2 separate regions of the Homo sapiens genome follow, and region 1 is linked to region 2. The links come from fine-mapping of genetic effects on gene expression. A gene starts in region 2. The other region holds a variant in brackets. All regions are shown on one strand. Distances are between the middles of the regions. Region 1 overlaps LOC105378204 (a long non-coding RNA gene). Region 2 holds the start of GNPDA1 (glucosamine-6-phosphate deaminase 1).

The links.
Region 1: its variant is fine-mapped to the expression of GNPDA1 in whole blood (INTERVAL, PIP 0.95).

The regions. Positions count from the first base shown.
Region 1 is chr5:142,092,771-142,101,448 of GRCh38, forward strand. It overlaps LOC105378204 (a long non-coding RNA gene), which reads right to left. Exons shown (of 3, transcript XR_944368.3): 2 at 5,349-5,538. Among named protein-coding and RNA genes, the nearest start is that of NDFIP1, 12 kb to the right of the region's middle. RefSeq lists a silencer at 8,421-8,621. The variant C/T (reference allele first, on the strand shown) is at 5,138.
Region 2 is chr5:142,008,819-142,017,496 of GRCh38, forward strand. GNPDA1 (glucosamine-6-phosphate deaminase 1) reads right to left here and starts at 4,209. Exons shown (of 7, transcript NM_005471.5): 1 at 4,177-4,209; 2 at 3,094-3,223. The coding sequence starts at 3,217. RefSeq lists silencers at 3,334-3,393, 4,065-4,334 and a cis regulatory region at 5,476-5,748.

The DNA of each region.
Region 1 (8,678 bases), 84 kb after region 2:
CAACAAAGCAAGACTTCTTCTCAAAAAAAAAAAAAAAAAAAAAAAAAAAAAGGAAAGAAAGAAAAGAAAAAAGGTGGGATTCCAGAAATAAAGGAGACTTTTAAAATGGTCATTTAACAAATGGTATGGAATCCAGCTAACCATTAAAAAAAAAAAATCTGGATTACTAGCTTCCTTACCCCTAAATAAATTACTTGATCAGATATGTCCGTGTAAAAAAGAAACCATAAAAACACTAAGGAAAATAGAGCTAAGTATTTTTGTGATTTTGGGGGTGAAGACCTTCCTAAGCCTAAAAAAGAAAAAAAAAAAAAAAAAAAGGAGGGATACATTTGACTACATTTTAAAAATGTTCCCAGGTGCGGTGGCTCATGCCTGTTATTCAAGCACTTTGGAAGGCTGAGGCGGGTGGATCACTTGAGGTCAGGATTTCGAGACCAGCCTGGCCAACATGGTGAAACCGTGTCTTTATTAAAAATACAAAAATCAGCCAGGCATTGTGGCACATGCCTGTAATCCCAGCTACTTGGGAGGCTGAGGCAGGTGAATTGCTTGAACCCAGGAGGTGGAGGTTGCAGTGAGCTGAGATTGTGCCACTGCACTCTAGCCTGGGCGACAGAGTGAGACTTTGTCTCAGAAAGAAAAAAAAAAAAAAGCGAAAGAACTTCAATATGGCAAATAATGCTGCCGAGTAGACTCAAAGACAAATGATAAGCTGTGAAAAATATTTGCAATAAACAAAGGGTAATATTCCTAATATATAGAGAATGCTTATAGATCAAAGACTAATTATAAAAAGATATAAATAGGCGTGTGCATTGGATTAGCAAAGATTTTTCTCTCTTTTCTTTTTCTCTTTTTTTTAAATTTTTTTTGAGACGGAGTCTTGCTCTGTCACCCAGGCTAGAGTGCAGTGGCGTGATCTCAGCTCACTGCAAGCTCTGCCTCCTGGGTGAAAGGGATTCTCCTGCCTCAACCTCCTGAGTAGCTGGAACTACAGGCGCCCGCCACCACGCCTGGCTAATTTTTTAAATATTTTCAGTAGAAAACACGGGTTTCACTGTGTTAGCCAGGATGGTCTCAATCTCCTGACTTCGTGATCCACCCTCCTCGGCCTCCCAAAGTGCTAGGATTACAGGCATGAGCCACTACACCCGGCCCCTTTCTTTTCTTTAAAATAGAGACAGGGTCTGTGTTGTCCTGGCTCATCACAAACTCCTGAGCTCAAATAATCCTCCCACCTTGGCCTCCCAAAATGCTGGGATTATAGGCATTAGCCACCACACTCGATCAGATTAGCAAAGACTTTTTTAAAATTGCCAATAACCAATGTTGGTAAGAGTGTGGAAAAATGAGTACTGGTGTGCCCTGCTGGTGGGAATATTAATCAGTACAATCTCCCTGGAGAGCACTTTAGCAATGTAGATCAAGAATCTAAAAAAGTACTATATCTGAAAAACAGTAATTTCATTTATAGATATCCATTTTAAGGAAATAATCAAAGATGGACAAAAAAAATTTATATATAAGGAGGCCGGGTACAGTGGCTCATGCCTGTAATAACAGCACTTTGGGAGGCTGAGGTGGGCAGATGATTTGAGCCCAGGAGTTTGAGACCAGCCTGGGCAACTTGGCAAAACCCCATCTCTACTAAAAATGCAAAAAATTAATCGGCCATGGTGGTGTGCACCTGTAGTCCCAGCTACTCAGCAGGCTGAGGTGGAAGGATCACCTGATGAGCCCAGGAAAGTCGGGGCTGCAGTGAGCCGTGTCTCACTACTCACTCCAGCCTCGACCATGGGAGTGAGACTCTGTCTCAAAAAAAAAAAAAAAAAAAAAAGAGTACTCTGGCCTTCTAAAAATAGTGCTTTTCAGGAGCACAGTGATTCCCAGGAACAGAAACTATCACCAAAGTGACCTCTAGTTTATGGTTGGGGGAAAGGAGGGTGGCAGAGAGTGAGCACAATAGAAATGGGCCCATCTTTATTTTTTGTATTCAAACAATTGTTTACCTTCAAACTATATTCACTATATGTGGACAGCAAATGGAGTCTTTTAAACAGAGAAAGCTGCCAATGGAGTAAGAATTAAATATCTATTTATTGAAGGAGTGAATACATGAATAAAATAAAGATAACTGAAACACTTCTAACATGACAAAGTGTTCAGTGGAGCTCAAGCATTGCATGGTACTGGCGAGAAGCTAGCAAACACGTCTTTTCTTAGTGTTGAGACCAACTCCAGGTTAACAAGGTACAGAATCAACTGGGAGAGACTCCCATGGGTGAACAGGCTCTTTTTCTTTGTCTCCTCAATTCTGCTGGCTTGCTTCAAACTCAATTTTAGCTGGTGTGAGCCCAGCCCAGCTTCAGGCCTGCTCTCTGCAATCATTCTAATGTCATCTCAGCACACAAGGAGTTACCCACGGAAAGCCCACACCAGGAAAAACTTCCCCGAGTTTCTGTGGCCGGAAAATCTGTGTCACCAGAGGTATCACTAGAGAAGTCTCCCTTCCACCCACTGCAATTTTGAAGAATCAGGGAACACATGCAGAGACACATGATAGTTCCTGGTATCTGCAATTTATAAAACACATTTATATACATTGTCCCATTTTGCCGATCTTTAGGAGGTGAAAGACCAGGACAAGACCCACATCCTTTTCCCTGAAGTCATTCTGCTTTAGAGAAAGCAATTTTTGTCAAAGCTGATATGAAAGGTCTTTCCTTCCTGGCAAGAGACACTATTGTCCCTTCCTGAAGAAGGAAGTCTAGTCTTCAGGTAAGAGGAAGGTATATTCTTAGGCAGCTGCTGGGTTGGAAGGAAGGAACAGTGAAGTCTGTGTTTTGGAAGGGAGGAGGGAGTGACATTTTTAAGTTACAAGCCTCTTCTGGGAGAGCTGGGGACAGATCTATTTTTAGATGTGTTCCCTGACACCCAGGAAGAACTCAAAAGGTAACCAAGCACTTGGCAGGTTTCCTGAAAAGAAAGTTGTTAAGGGCTAGAGGGACTCTGTGTGTTCTGAGGCACGAAGTTTGACTTCAATCTGATGCAGTGTGTTGCCCGCCCCGCCTTTTAGCATAGTTTGGTTGCAGGATGACAGAATACTTGGGGGTGGCACAAACCCTCAAATCATGAAAGGCTAGGCCGCAGACTCACAGAGAGCTGGATGATGTGTGCCACCCTAAAACCACTTCCTGGGTGCGTGATTATGGGCATGTGACTTAACTCCTTTGAGCTCAGTTTCCTCATCTGTAAAATGAAGACTCAAACCAAATAAAGTCCTCTTAGCCCTAATCTTCTAACAACACACACACAGGCCAGGCGTGGTGAGTAATCCGTGCACTTTGGGAGGCCAAGGTGGGTGGATCACCTGAGGTCAGGAGTTCGAGACCATCTTGGCCAACATAGTGAAACCCCATCTCTACTAAAACTACAAAAATTAGCTGGGTGTGCTGGTGGACACCTGTAATCCTAGCTACTCAGGAGGCTGAGGCAGGAGAATCACTTGAACCCAAGAGGTGGAGGTTGCAGTGAGCCAAGATTGTGCCACTGCCCTCCAGCCTGGGTGACAGAGTGAGATTCCATCTCAAAAAATAAAAATAATAAAACATAATAATAACAAACACAAAATAACCTCCATATGACCTGTTCTTTCACTCATAGAACAGAGATAGAAGTAGACACTACCTCATGTGTTTATTTTAATAAAAAAAGATGATAAATATAAAATTGTTCGGCACAGTCCCTCACTTAAAGTAACTGCTCAAGTCATGTGTTATTCAAACAGCATTCTTGGGACTCATGACGTCAGAGGCCCCTTGTTAGGGCATTGAACAATAAAAAATGTGCCTTACAACTTTTTATGGTGAAATACATCAAGGAGAATGTAACCTGGTGTTCTGGAGCAGCTATAAACTAATCTGACCATGCTTGCTGATGAAGTGATACTGGCTCACCAGGTAAAGGCAAGAGGGTGTTTGGTGTGTCGAGAGCCAAAAACACAGCCTCCCTCAGCCATGAAGCAGGTGGCCTATTATTCTGCTAGAAATGGAAATCCAAGGTTTTGTGGCCTGTTTTGCCATAAGGAACTCAGGAAAGGCCTCATTGCCAGGTGGTGTCTTACCTTGTACCCCGATTCTTTTTTTTTTTTTTTGAGATGGCGTTTTGCTCTTGTTGCCCAGGCTGGAGTGCAATGGCTCGATCTTGGCTCACTGCAACCTCCGCCTCCTGGGTTCAAGCAATTCTCCTGCCTCAGCCTCCCAAGTAGCTGGGATTACCGGCATGGGCCACCATGCCTGGCTAATTTTGTATTTTTAGTAGAGACGGGGTTTCTCCATGTTAGTCAGGCTGGTCTCGAACACCTGACCTCAGGTGATCCGCCCACCTCGGCCTCCCAAAGTGGTGGGATTACAGGTGTGAGCCACTGCGCCCAGCCACCTTGTACCCCGATTCTTTCATAACAGTGCTCACTCCAGGGGAGGAAGTTGACACGGAGAGGGGCTTGTCTTTGCTGCTCTCTGTGGGTTTTAGTTACTGAAGATGTGACAAAGGACTGTCCCAACTTGGGGATAAGGTTAGGGAGAAGTTATGAATAACTGGGCCAGGATTTCTATTGTACTTAAAAAAACTCAGCAGCCAGGCATGGTGGCTCACGCCTCTAATTCCAGCACTTTGGGAGGCCAAGGCAGGTGGATCACCTGAGGTCAGGAGTTCGAGACCAGCCTAGCCAAAATGATGAAACCTGTCTCTGCTAAAAATACAAAAATCAGCTGGGCGTGGTGGCTCACGCCTGTAATCCCAGCTACTAGGGAGGCTGAGGCAGGAGAATTGCTTGAACCTGGGAGGCGGAGGTTGCAGCGAGCCAAGCTCGTGCCACTGCACTTCCAGCCTGGGCAACAGAGCAAGACTCTGTCTAAAAACAAAACAAAACAAACAAAACAAAAACTCAGGTATTATTTTCTGGTCCTCGTGTAATCTTATTTAGAACTAGAGATTCTCTTGTACTTTGCCTGAGGCCTGCTGAGTCACCTGAGCAGAGCTCCCTGAAGACTTGTAGTAACCAGCGTGCATGCCCACAAGCTGCTGCTGAGTGCAAGCCAACACGGCTTCTTCCACTAAGGGCCCCTGAGGGTCA[C/T]TTCTCTTCTGCGTCATAATTAACACATATGCGTCTCCCCTGACACACTGCAGAGCTCCTAGCTTTAGCATTTCCCGTGTGCAATCGTGTTTCTGCTGATACTCTCTAAATACAGTGAGAAAACTACCGTCCTAGGAAATGTGAGAACCCCTTGACTTATCTTACGAATCAGTGTGGGAGCTTGGAGAAGTGAAGCACCTTCTCTACTCACCTTGTTCTCTTTTCAAGGCACTTGGTTAAGACAACTGGTTGGAACATTGTGTCCAAAGATGAGGTTCAGAGACTTCATTTCCTTGTAGATGAACACTACGCTGTTCCTCATTTCTTGGCCACCCACAACACCTTGTAAGGGAGGAAAAAATAATTTTCCTTCCACCCTTCTAAGTTATCTGCTGGGGCTCCTGTAACAAAAGACAGATTAACAAGAGAAAAAACAAACAGAAGTTTACTAACGTGTATCTTGGCTCATTCCTGTAATCTCAGCACTTTGGAAAGCCAAGGTGGGTAAATCACTTAAGTCCAGCAATTTGAAACCAGCCTAGGCAACATAGCGAAACTCCATCTCTTAAAAAAAAAAAAAAACAAAAAACAGAGAAAGAAATATTTTTTTAAAAAAAAGAAGAAGAAGAAAAACAAAAGAAGTTTACTAACAGGTATATCTCATATAAACCTGGGCAGTCAGGGAAATGAGTAACTCTCAGAGAGGTGGCTTAGAATTCAGGCTTAAATACCATCTTCAGCTAAATCAGTGAAAGAATTGTGTGGTGGAGGTAAATTATGAGAAGGCAACCAGGAAATGTACAGTAAACAAGGGTAAGCTTTGTTATGCAGATATAAGTTGGTGCCTTCTCCACTGATAAGAATTTCTTGTGATTTAGAATATCTTTCTCTTCCTAGTACAGAGAAAGACATCCCTACACATGGAGATTTCCTTTATAAATGTAAATTTCCCTTTCAAATGGGAAACTTCTCTGTTTTCAGAGATTCTCCCATGTCTGCTATTTCCTAAAATAATTGGTTCAAAATAATCCTTATGCCAAAGAAGTATATTTTGGGGTAGCATATTCTGTTCTTTTACAATCCCTAAATATACAGTGAACACTAAGCCATTTGTCAGAGGAGGAATCACTTAAAGATTTTATGGAGTCACTCTTATAGGAGCCTAGGTTGTATATTACCCAATGCAGAGTGTGTGGTTGGGGAGAGGGTGTTGTTTGCATAGACTGCAATGTGATGGATAACCTGGAGTTGGACAGTACACAATTTGCACAATCAGATGTGGCAGCCCATGGGGACTAACTATAGCATCACTCCTGGGAAGGGGAAATTCCCAAACTTAAAGCATATATTCTGTTTAGGATGGAGGAGTTTGTTTGGCATATTTATAATTGAATGTTAGTGACAACCCTTGGAAGGAATTTCTCTATTGTTCTTGGTATCATCTCTTGTTTTATTTAGCTCAGGGTCACTATCAATTGTATAACCAATCAGGTCTCCATTTTAATTGGATGCCAAGTTTACGGTACACTTGTAATGTATAAATTCATTTTTGTGTTAACCTTATTCTTGGTGTTATTTTAATTCTATGAAGAACTATTATGGGACAGGCCCTGTTCACATGGCAACAAAAGTGAACAAGAAGACAAAGTCTATTTTATGTTGCTACTCTTGTTTTGCTTTTTCTTTCTCATCTACTTCTAATTTGTGATTTCTTGCTATACAGTAACCTCCTAAATCCTTTCAGGATCAAGTGCATAAAATAAGTGGATATTATAAATATATATACACCTAAAAATAGAGCAGCAAAATACACAAATCAAAACTGACACAATTGAAGGGACAAATAGACAATCAATAGCAGTAGTTGGAGACTTCAACAAACTGCTTTCAATACAGTGAGAACAACTAAGTAGAAGATCAATAAAAAGATAGAAGTCTTTTTTTTTTTTTTTTGAGACAGAGTATTGCTCTGTCGCCCAGGCTGGAGTGCAGTGGCATGATCTCAGCTCGCTGCAACCTCTGCCTCCCGGGTTCAAGCAATTCTTCTGTCTCAGCCTCCCGAGTAGCTGGGACTACACATGTGTGCCACCACTCCCGGCTAATTTTTGTATTTTTAGTAGAGAAGAGGTTTCACCATTTTGGCCAGGCTGGTCTCGAACTCTTGACCTCATGATCTGCCCGCCTCAGACTCCCAAGGAAATAGAAGTCTTACACCATACTATAAGCCAGCTAAAGCTAATAGATACCTATAGAACTGTTGGGGCTCAGAAAATAATACACCAAAATATGGCGTATTATTTGAATACTGAGCACTTTGAATTAAAGGAAATTGAAAGCCTTAGAAGTGACCTCAGAATCAGTGTCTCTCTGACCTTCTCTTGTTTCTCCCCACAAGGGTGGGGACAGGCTCTCTCTGAAGGTCCCTTATCTCATTGAGGGAAGTTCTTTCAAAATAAACACAATTGTCTTTAATCCACTGTTTAAAATCTCATTGCCAGCTGGGGCACAGTGGCTCATGCCTGTAATCCCAGCATTTTGGAAGGCTGAGGTGGGCGGATCACTTGAGGTCAGGAGTTCAAGACCAGCCTGGCCAACAGGGCAAAACGCCATCTCTACTAATAATACAAAAATTCACCAGGCATGGTGTTGGGCGTCTATAATCCCAGCTACTCGGGAGCCTAAGGCATGAGAATGGCTTGAACTCGGGAGGCGGAAGTTGCAGTGAGCCGAGATCATCCCACTGTACTCCAGCATGGGTGACAGACTGAAACTGCATCTCAAAAAAATAAAAATAAAAATAAATAAATAAATAAATCTCATTGCCTAGGGAAGATAAATCAGGAAGAAGAAACAAAAGGTTGTCACTACACCCACCCAAGCAAACTTATCATATTGCCTGAGAGACCTTATTTGCATACTAAGACAATATTTGCATTGCAGTTCTGTCCCCTCACCTTCCCATAACTTGTCACCACCTTCCCCAGAGCTCAGAGGACCTTTGTCCCAGGCTATTGTCTTTTCTTTGGGCCCATTCATCTCCCCTAAAAATTACTTATTCTTTGTATTAGTCCATTTTCACATGGCTGTAAAGAACTGCCCATGACTGGGTAATTTGTAAAAGAAAGAGGCTTAATTGACACACAATTCAGCATGGTTGGGAAGTCCTCAGGAAACTTACAATCATGGCAGAAGGCAAAGGGGAAGCAAGGCAATGCTTCCCCACAAGGCAGCAGGAAGGAGAAGTGCTGAGCAAAGGGGGAAGAGCCCCTTATAAAACCATCAGATCTCACGAGATCTCACTCACCATCATGAGAACAGCCTGGAGGAAACTGCCCCCAAGAATCAATTACCTCCACTTGGTCTCTCCCTTGACACATGGGGATTAGAATTCAAGATGAGATTTGGGTGGGGACGCAAAGCCTAACCATATGAAGAGTGATAACTCTTCCTCTAAAATTGCCTTCATCTCCCCTGTGAAGAGGGTATTTAAACTCCATCTGTCAGGTCCTTCTTTGAGTTTCATACTTGGTGTGACTCCCAT
Region 2 (8,678 bases):
GACTGGACACTGAATTAATTTTTTAAAAACCAACCTATAAAAGATAAATGTGGACAATTGAGAAAAAATTGTGAACACAGTTTGCATATTAGATGATGGCATGATTTTTCATTTTCTTAGGTATGATGGTATCATGGTTGTGTAGGAGAATGTCCTTATTCTCAGGAGATATGTGCTGAAGGATTTAGAGATAAGTGTCAGGATGTCTGGAACTTATTTTCATGTGGTTCAGAAAAAAAAAGTGTGTGTGTGTGTAGATAAAGAACAAGAGCCAGAGAAAGGTAAAAGCAAATGTGGCAAAATGGTAACAATTGGTGAATTTAGGTGAATGGTATTGACCTGTTTTTTTCCTCTTTTTTGAATATTTGAAATTTTGCAAACTAAAAAAATGAAAGAAAAAAAACCCATCGAGATTACGTCATGTCACCCCTCTTTTCAAAACCCACCAATAGCTTCTCATTTCACCCTCAGCAACACCAGTTATTCTAAGGCTCCACAGAACCTGGCCCCTGGCTATGAGACCCTCCCTGCCACCATATCCAACACTGCACAGCCCCACCCCTGCCGACACACTCCCTATCCTTTCCTGCTTCATGTTTCTCCTTTCCTCTTATCACCATCTAACATACTCTATATTTTGCTAATTATTATGTCTCTCCCATTATAATTTAAGCCTCAGAAGGCAGAAGTTCATATCCTTTTTGTTCATTGCTGTATCCTTAGAGGCTAGAACAGCTTTGCATACAGAGGGTACTCAATAAATACCTGCTGAGTGAATGGCAGCTCCCCGCAGCCCACCCAAAATAATTAGTTGGTCCGTGTGACAAGGCCTTAGCTATGCCTGAGCCACATAGCTTCCTCTCTCCTGCCATTTTCCAAACTTCTAGCCTTCCCATGAATTCTCTGAACTTCCCAGTATCTAGCCAATAAACTCCTTTTCTGCTTAATTTAGCTGGAGTTGGTTTCTGTGGTTTCCACTCAGAACCCTGACAGGTGCTACATCTAACAGAAGCAATGTTCCAAGGAACCCGTGTGGAAACGCTGTCCTGTTGGTTCAAGCAGGACAGGCAGGGAGAGGCCAGGTTTTGGAGGGCCTTGAATGCCACTCTGAAGAGCTTGGATCTGACTCTGCAATGATGGGAACGAGGGAATGGTTTCAGAAGGCCAGACTCTGACCCATACAGAGGTTGGGTCTCTCCACAGTTAGGAGACAGGATGTTAGCACAGCCTCCGAGGGCCTGAGACATTGGTAGTTTCACAGGCACAGGTGGATACTACTCCCACAAACCTCTAGTGCAGAACTCAGCAAACTTTGGTCCACAGGCCAAATTTGGCCTGCGGCCTTTATTTTTTATTTTTTTAGACAGAGTATCGCTGTCACCCAAGCTGGAGTGCAGTGGCACAATCTCAGCTCACTGTAACCTCTATCTGCTGGGTTCAATTGATTCTCCTGCCTCAGCCTCCTGAGTAGCTGGGATTATAGGTGCCCGCCACCATGCCCAGCTAATTTTTATATTTTTAGTAGAGGCAGGGTTTCACCATGTTGGCCAGGCTGGTCTCAAATTCCTGACTTCAAATGATCGACCCACCTCAGCCTCCCAAAGTGCTGGGATTACAGGCGTGAGCCACCACACCCGGCCCTGTGGCCTGTTTTTATACAGCTTATGAGTTAAGAATGGTTTTCTTTTCTTTCTTTTTTTTTTTTTTTTTGAGACAGAATCTTGCTCTGTCACCTAGGCTGGAGTGCAATTGCACAATCATGGTTCACTGCCTCGACCTCCTGGCCCAAGCAATACTCACACCTCACACCGTAGCCTCCTCAGTAGCTGGGACTACAGGCATGTGCCACCATGCCTAGCTAATTTTTCTATTTTTTGTAGAGATGGGGTTTTGCCATGTTGCCCAGGCTAATCTCAAACTCCTGGGCTCCAGCAATCTGCCTACCTCAGCCTCCCAAAGTGCTGAAATTACAGATATGAGCCACCATGCCTGGCCTGGTTTTTACATTTTTAAATAGTTTTTTTTTTAATTAAAGAAGAATAATATTTTGTGACATGTGAAAATTATATAAGTTCAAACTTCAGTGTCCATACAGTTTTATTGGCATACAACCATACTCATTCACTTATATATTGTCTTTTCTTTTTTTGAGACAGGGTCTCACTGTCACCCAGACTGGAGTACAGTGACACAATCATGGCTCACTGCAGCCTCAATCTACTGGCTCAAGCAATCCACCTACCTCAGCCTCCCAAGAAGCTGGGACTACAGGTGAGCGCCACCATGCCAGGCTAATTATAGCTGCTTTCAAACAACAGAAGGGTTAAGTTGTTGCAACAGAGACTATATGGCTAGTGAAGTCTAACATATTTACTACTGGCCATTTACAGAAAAAGTCTGGACTGCAAGGAAGACCAAAAAAAAAAAAAAAAAGGAAAAAGAACAAGTTTGAAGACCCCTCCAACACACACACACACACATAGACACGCTAATGGATGGGTCAGGTAGGGCCACTAGGGCAAACCCATCCATCTCTGAAAGAAATAATCAGGACATTTGTCTTGAGGAGCTGGGGTCAAAATATCTTTCTGAAAAAGCAACATTTTGATTTTTTCCAAAAGAAATTAGAACTGTTTTTTATTTAGGTCCTGTGTTTAATTAAGCCTTACAGAAAATTACCTAAGTGACTATCTTTTCAATTCTCCCAAGGATGGTACTTAGCTGGTACCCCTCTAGATGCAGAGAAGAGAAATTAATTCATTACATAAAATGAATGCCTTAGGGTATCAGGACTTAATTCTGTTAAGAAACCCTGGTGGACAGGGCTGACTTAGGATGTAGCCTAAAAATCAAATTCTTCCTGCCAACCAAGATCCCTTCTGCTCCAGGATTCTGCAGGGACAGGCAGCGACTAAACCAACCCATAAGGGAAGCTGGGTCCTTTGTATGTGGAAGGGGCAGGAAGGTGCTCTCTCAGCACCAGTACCCCAGAGCCCCCGTGAAGTCCCTTGGCTGAGTGAGCCGGTGTACCTGGCCCCTGTTGCCTACTCTCTCCACCCTTATCCACGGCACCCTCTCCATCCAAGAACGCACCAGTGGGGAGCCCCAGGGTGAAGTACTTCTCTGGCCCTGGGTTAAACTGGATGATGCGGTTCCTGATGTATTTAGCCGCCCACTCGCTCGCCTGAGAATAGTGCTCCAGGATGATGAGCTTCATCTTGTCCTGCAGTGGGGGAGAGGGGATGACAGAAAGGAATCAATGGTAAGGGGCAGAGAAAGAGATGGAGGTGGTGGGAGAAGCTTCTCTTACCCAGCAACAATCCCCTTCCCAAGCTGTCTGAGCCAGGAAAAAGGCCTTTCTATTCACAGAGGAGCTAAGAGGCTAGGCCAGTCGTCTCCACCACCCACAGACCACGAGGAGGCGCCACTGGGGGCAGATCTGGGTTCTAATCTCAGCTCCTTCACTTACCACCTGCAGGACCTCGGTCAAAGGACCTAAGTTCTCTCTGAGCCGTTTCCTCCTATGTAAAAATTGGGACAATAGTACCTACTTCACAGACTTCACGACGGGTAATATGAAATGAGAGAATGCATGTAAACAACTTAGTATTTTCTACGTTGGCTGTTACCATCCAGATAGATGCTCGGCTCAGCCCCGCCTCCCTCATCCCTGCCCCTACCGGAACGGGATACCCTACCCCCTCCCCGCCGTCTACCCCAAGACTCTTCCTCCAGAAGTAGAGAGGTCATGGGATCATGCTGGGCCACTAGAGCAGGTGGGGCAATGAGCTCTGCCTGGGGAGCTGTGTGCTCTCTCTGGACTAGCGGAGGGGTCTTCCTACTGGCCCACCTTGCTTTGCGAACCCCTCTGGGTCTTCAGTTTCCCCCAAAGCACAAAAGGGAAAAGGTAATCGCTCCAGAAGGAGGACATTTTGTTCCCCCAGCACTGCGGTTAGTGGGAGTGTGAAGGAAAGAGGCGAAGGTGGCCCGCGCGGTCGTCGGTGGGGTACAGCGTGTCCCCCACCCCCATTACCACCCCATCGCCCCTCCGATCCCTCCTGGAAAATGTGTGAGGGCGGCTCCCCGGGGTCCCGACCCCGAGTGCCGTAGGGCTGGGGCAGCGCTCCGCGCTCCGGCCCGCGAGGAAGGTCCCCGCCAGCCCTGCTACCCACTTACACGGACGCCTCCCGCGGCGGCTGCAGCGACTGCGCCGGCGGCCCGGCCCCGCGCGGGTCACGTGGCTGCGGGTCACGCGGCGCCGCGTGCGCCGCCCGCCGGGCTGACTCAGCTTGGCCGCAGCTACCCGGACCGACTCTCCCAGGTGGAGGAGTTCCGGCCACTCAGTCCCACCTCGGTCCCTGGCCCCGGCAGGCCCTGGAACAGACCTTAAAAAACACTTTCCCTTGGGAGGCGGGGATTCGAGTCTGGTTTGTGTGTGTGTGTGTGCAAGAGGAGGGAGACTTGAGGGGCGCCGGGTCGCCCCCAGGAATACAACCCCCTGGACCTTGGGGCTGGGGCCGGGGGGTTTTAGTGCAGGGGTTGAGCTGGGGGCAGGCAAAGCAGAATCGCTTCCTCAGTCTCCTAGGGTTGGGCCTGGCTCTGCCTTCAGTTTCTTTCTTTGTTTAGATGCCATTTATTTACCCAAGTATTAAAACTTGTGTTGTTTAAAGTACAATTGGGCTTTTTAATGTCCTTTTTTAAAGATCAAACTTTGCAGCATTATATAATAGAGAAAAAGGCAGGCCCCTGGTTTCCCCAACTCCCCACACCAAGATAACCATTGCTTAGTTTAAGAGTACATTCTGAATTGCTTTCTTTGAATATGCTTACACTGTTATTTTACATAAATGGGAACACATACACATGAGGCTTATATATATCAAGGCTCGGATATTTGACCTGCATTATTTCACTTAATCCTTATTAAGCTCCAGTGAGGTAGGTTTGCCGTTACTTTTTAACAGGTGGAGAAACTGACGCTTGGAGAGAAAAATTAACTTGGCCAGAGGCACAAGTGGTTTCCCTTGTGCCTTCAATTCAGGGGGATCTGTCCAAATCCAAAATCCATGCTTTTTACCGCTAGCGGGCACTGCCTCCCAGCTGGTATGACTGGATTTGGGACGCTTCCATATCAGAAAAAGAGATCCATCTTATTCTTTCCAGTCAACATTAGAGTGTTCCAGACTTCTAGGGACACTTGGGAACTTTCCATGCGGAGGCTGGAGGAAGGACTTGAGTGCTGGTCATCAGTAACATCTTCCATTACATAGGGTTTTGCCAGAGCTTTGTGCGCATTATTTCATAGAATCCCGCCCAATCGTCAGATATGATTACCGCCATTTTATTGATGTGGAAACTGGGGATCAAAGGCGTACAGAGACTTGTGATATATGACCTCATAGTCTGACATCCCGGACTTTAGTCAGTGCTAGGGAGCAGTGGTGAGACCTTCTGAATCAGCCTAGTTTTCCTCCAGCAGCAAAAGGCCAAAGGAATCCTGGCTTTATGCCCACGGGACAGGGCCTTCCTCAGTCAGCCGGGTGGCCACGTTCTGCAATTCTGCTGAATCTGCTCACTGTGGACAGCCCCAGGCGCTCACCCAGCCCTTGGGCCCAACTGCAGCTCCAGACCAGCTTGCTAGGGGTAGGCTTCATCTGGTGAGGCCCTGATGAGACCAGATGGTGGAGCTGATACCTTTACAGTGTGGGGGACTTGCTCTTTGCCTCAGTGTTATTTTGTTTTGTTTTGTTTTGTTTTCCAAATCCTGAGAGGCTGTGAATGGCTCGGTGTTGGTGTAGTTTTTGTTTATTTTTAAATTCAGTCAGAAATCTTTTTTTTTTTTTTTTTGAGATGGAGTCTCGCTCTGTTGCCCAGGCTGGAGTACAGTGGTGTGATCTCTGCTCACTGCAACCTCCGCCTCCCGGGTTCAAGCAGTTCTCCTGCCTCAGCCTCCCGGGTAGCTGGGATTACAGATGCCCACCACCATGCCCAGCTAATTTTTGTACTTTTAATAGAGATGGGGTTTCACCATGCTGGCCAGGCTAGTCGTGAACTCCTGACCTCAGGTGATCTGCCCGCCTTGGCCTCCTAAAGTGCTGGGATTACAGGCATGAGCCACCGCCCCCAGCCAGAAATGTTGTCTCAGCTTGAGGACTGCAGATGTTTCACAATGAAGCTCCAACTCCAATCTCCGATCACGTCTGATAACATGGGCCAGGTCTGCAGCATCTGCATCCAGACCTTTCCAGGAGGAGAGTGACTGACTTCTGGTGACTAAGCCCATTTCCCCTGAGTTACCCCTTCTGCAGGGAACCAGTGCAGGGTCTCTGCGAAGCCTGGAGGCTCTTGGATCAGCGTGGGGACTAATCGGAAAGACCTGCATTTCAATTCTGGTCTGGCTAATTTCTGGTTATTTAGTGAGTAATTCAAGCAAATGACTCAACTTCTCCAGGTCTCAGTTTTCTTACCTGAAACATAAGAATTGAGTGGAAATTAAGTAATACTGCCCTCGTGTGGCTGTTGTGACTATTAAATGAAATATTAGCATAGCATGGCATTCACAGCCAGCTGTTATTACTTACCCCTTATTTCCTCCTAACCCTCCTTACAGCCCACTCTCTAACCATACTGAAATGCTCTCTAGCCCTAACCTCCTGACTCCCTGTACTCCTCCTACTCCACATCTGTGTTTAAACTATTACCCACACCTATCCTCCCATCCTCTTGTCTTGGAACTAAAGTTGCCAAATTAAAAGAATTGTGAGTTTATCCATGCAATGGAACACTCTGCAACTCTTGTATGGTCAGATATTTTTATACCTTCTAATGCACCCTTGCTTTGGGCAAACAACCTGACCAGATGTTACCTCCCAAATTCTGCTCAATTCATAGAGTTTGTGTGGTGCTGGCCCTACCCTTTGACTTAGGAGCAAACCAATTAGAGACTCCATGGCTCTGGCCATGATTAGTTCAAGGCCAGGCAGGCATGGAAGACACTAACCCAGCAGCCATTCAGAGACTCCTTCTCCCTTGCTGCTTCCCACTGGAGAAACTGGAAAGTCAACGACTCTCACAGCTTCTCCCACAGCTACGGGGTGGCCAAGTAACTTCATTCTGCCCAATGAGGGAGGAGGATGGCTTCTGGTTAGATATTTTACTTCCTGAGAAAAGTGCTGTGCTTGAGAAACAAACTGGCGGTTTCTGGTTCCTTCCCTTTCCTTCCTGCCTTGAAGGCAGTTGTGATGACTGAAGCTGGGGAGGCCACGTTGTAACTGTGAGGCACCAAGCATAAGGATAGAGTGGAGGAGGGAAAACACTTATGTCCTTGATATCTGACTAGTGCTGGGACCTCCTACTTCTGGACTTCTTCTAAGTAAATGGTAAATGTCCTTATGGCTTAAACTTTAAATCATTGTTAGGAGAATTTCCTGTGACTTGAAATTGAAAACATGACTCACTGCTAGAGCAGGTGATTCAGATCTTCCTTAGGGTTTATGCCACTACTGGGGGAAAATACACTTCTCCTGAGATCTTGAGCCGTAAAACAGAGGAAAGCTTAGAGCTACAGAAAGGTACAACAAATAGAAGAGAGACACAGAACTCTGATGACATCATTTGAGCCCCCTAGAATAGCATGTCTGAAGCCAAATATACCCTTTTGGGTTTCGTGGTTGAGTGAGTGAATGAGTGAATACATAATTAAATATCATTTTCCCCTGAAGCTAGTTAGAGGAAATTCTGGAAGGATATTTTATTAGTTATCTATTGCTGTGTAACAGATTACCCCAAAACTTAGTGGCTTAAAACAACAATAATGACTTATTTCTCACAGTTTCTGTGGGCTAGAAATTCAGACAGGATACAGTGGCGATGATATCTTGCCCCTCAACTGAAAGACTCAAATTCTGGGGCTGGAATCGTATGAAAGCTCATTGACTCACATGTCTTGACAACAGGTGCTCACTGTCAGTGGAACACTCACACATGGCTCTCCTTGTTGCCTGGGCTTCCTCACAACATAGCGGTGGGTTCCAAGGGCAAGCGTATCAAGAGACAAAGATGGGCTAAGGCTGTATCCTTCTTCTGACCTAGTCTCAGAAGTCATATAGCATCACTTCTGCTGAGCTCTGTGGGTTGGAGAAATCACAAGCCCCTATCCAGATTTAAAAAGAGAAAACATAGACCCCCATCTCTCTGTGTAAGAAGTTCAGTAATATTATAAGAAGAGCATGTTGGACGGGATACATGTACAAGTATGGCCATGTTTAAAAAATACAATCTGCCACAGACACACACTAACTTGTTATTAAGATGTGATCTGGCCAGGAGTGGTGGGTCACACCTGTAATCCCAACACTTTGGGAGGCAGAGGCGGGCAGATCACTTGAACCCAGGAGTTTAAGACCAGCCTGGCCAACATGGTAAAACCCTGTCTCCACTAAAAATACAAAAATTACCCGGGTGTGGTGGCACGTGCCTGTAATCCTAGCTACTCAGGAGGCTGACGCGTGAGAATCGCTTGAACCTGGGAGGTGAAGGTTGCAGTAAGCTGAGATCGCACCACTGCACTGCAGCCTGGGTGACAGAGCAAGACTCTGTCTCAAACAAAACCCCCTGCCCCATTTGGCAAAAAAAAAAAAAAAAAAAAAAAAAATTTAATAAAAAGATTTGATCAAAGT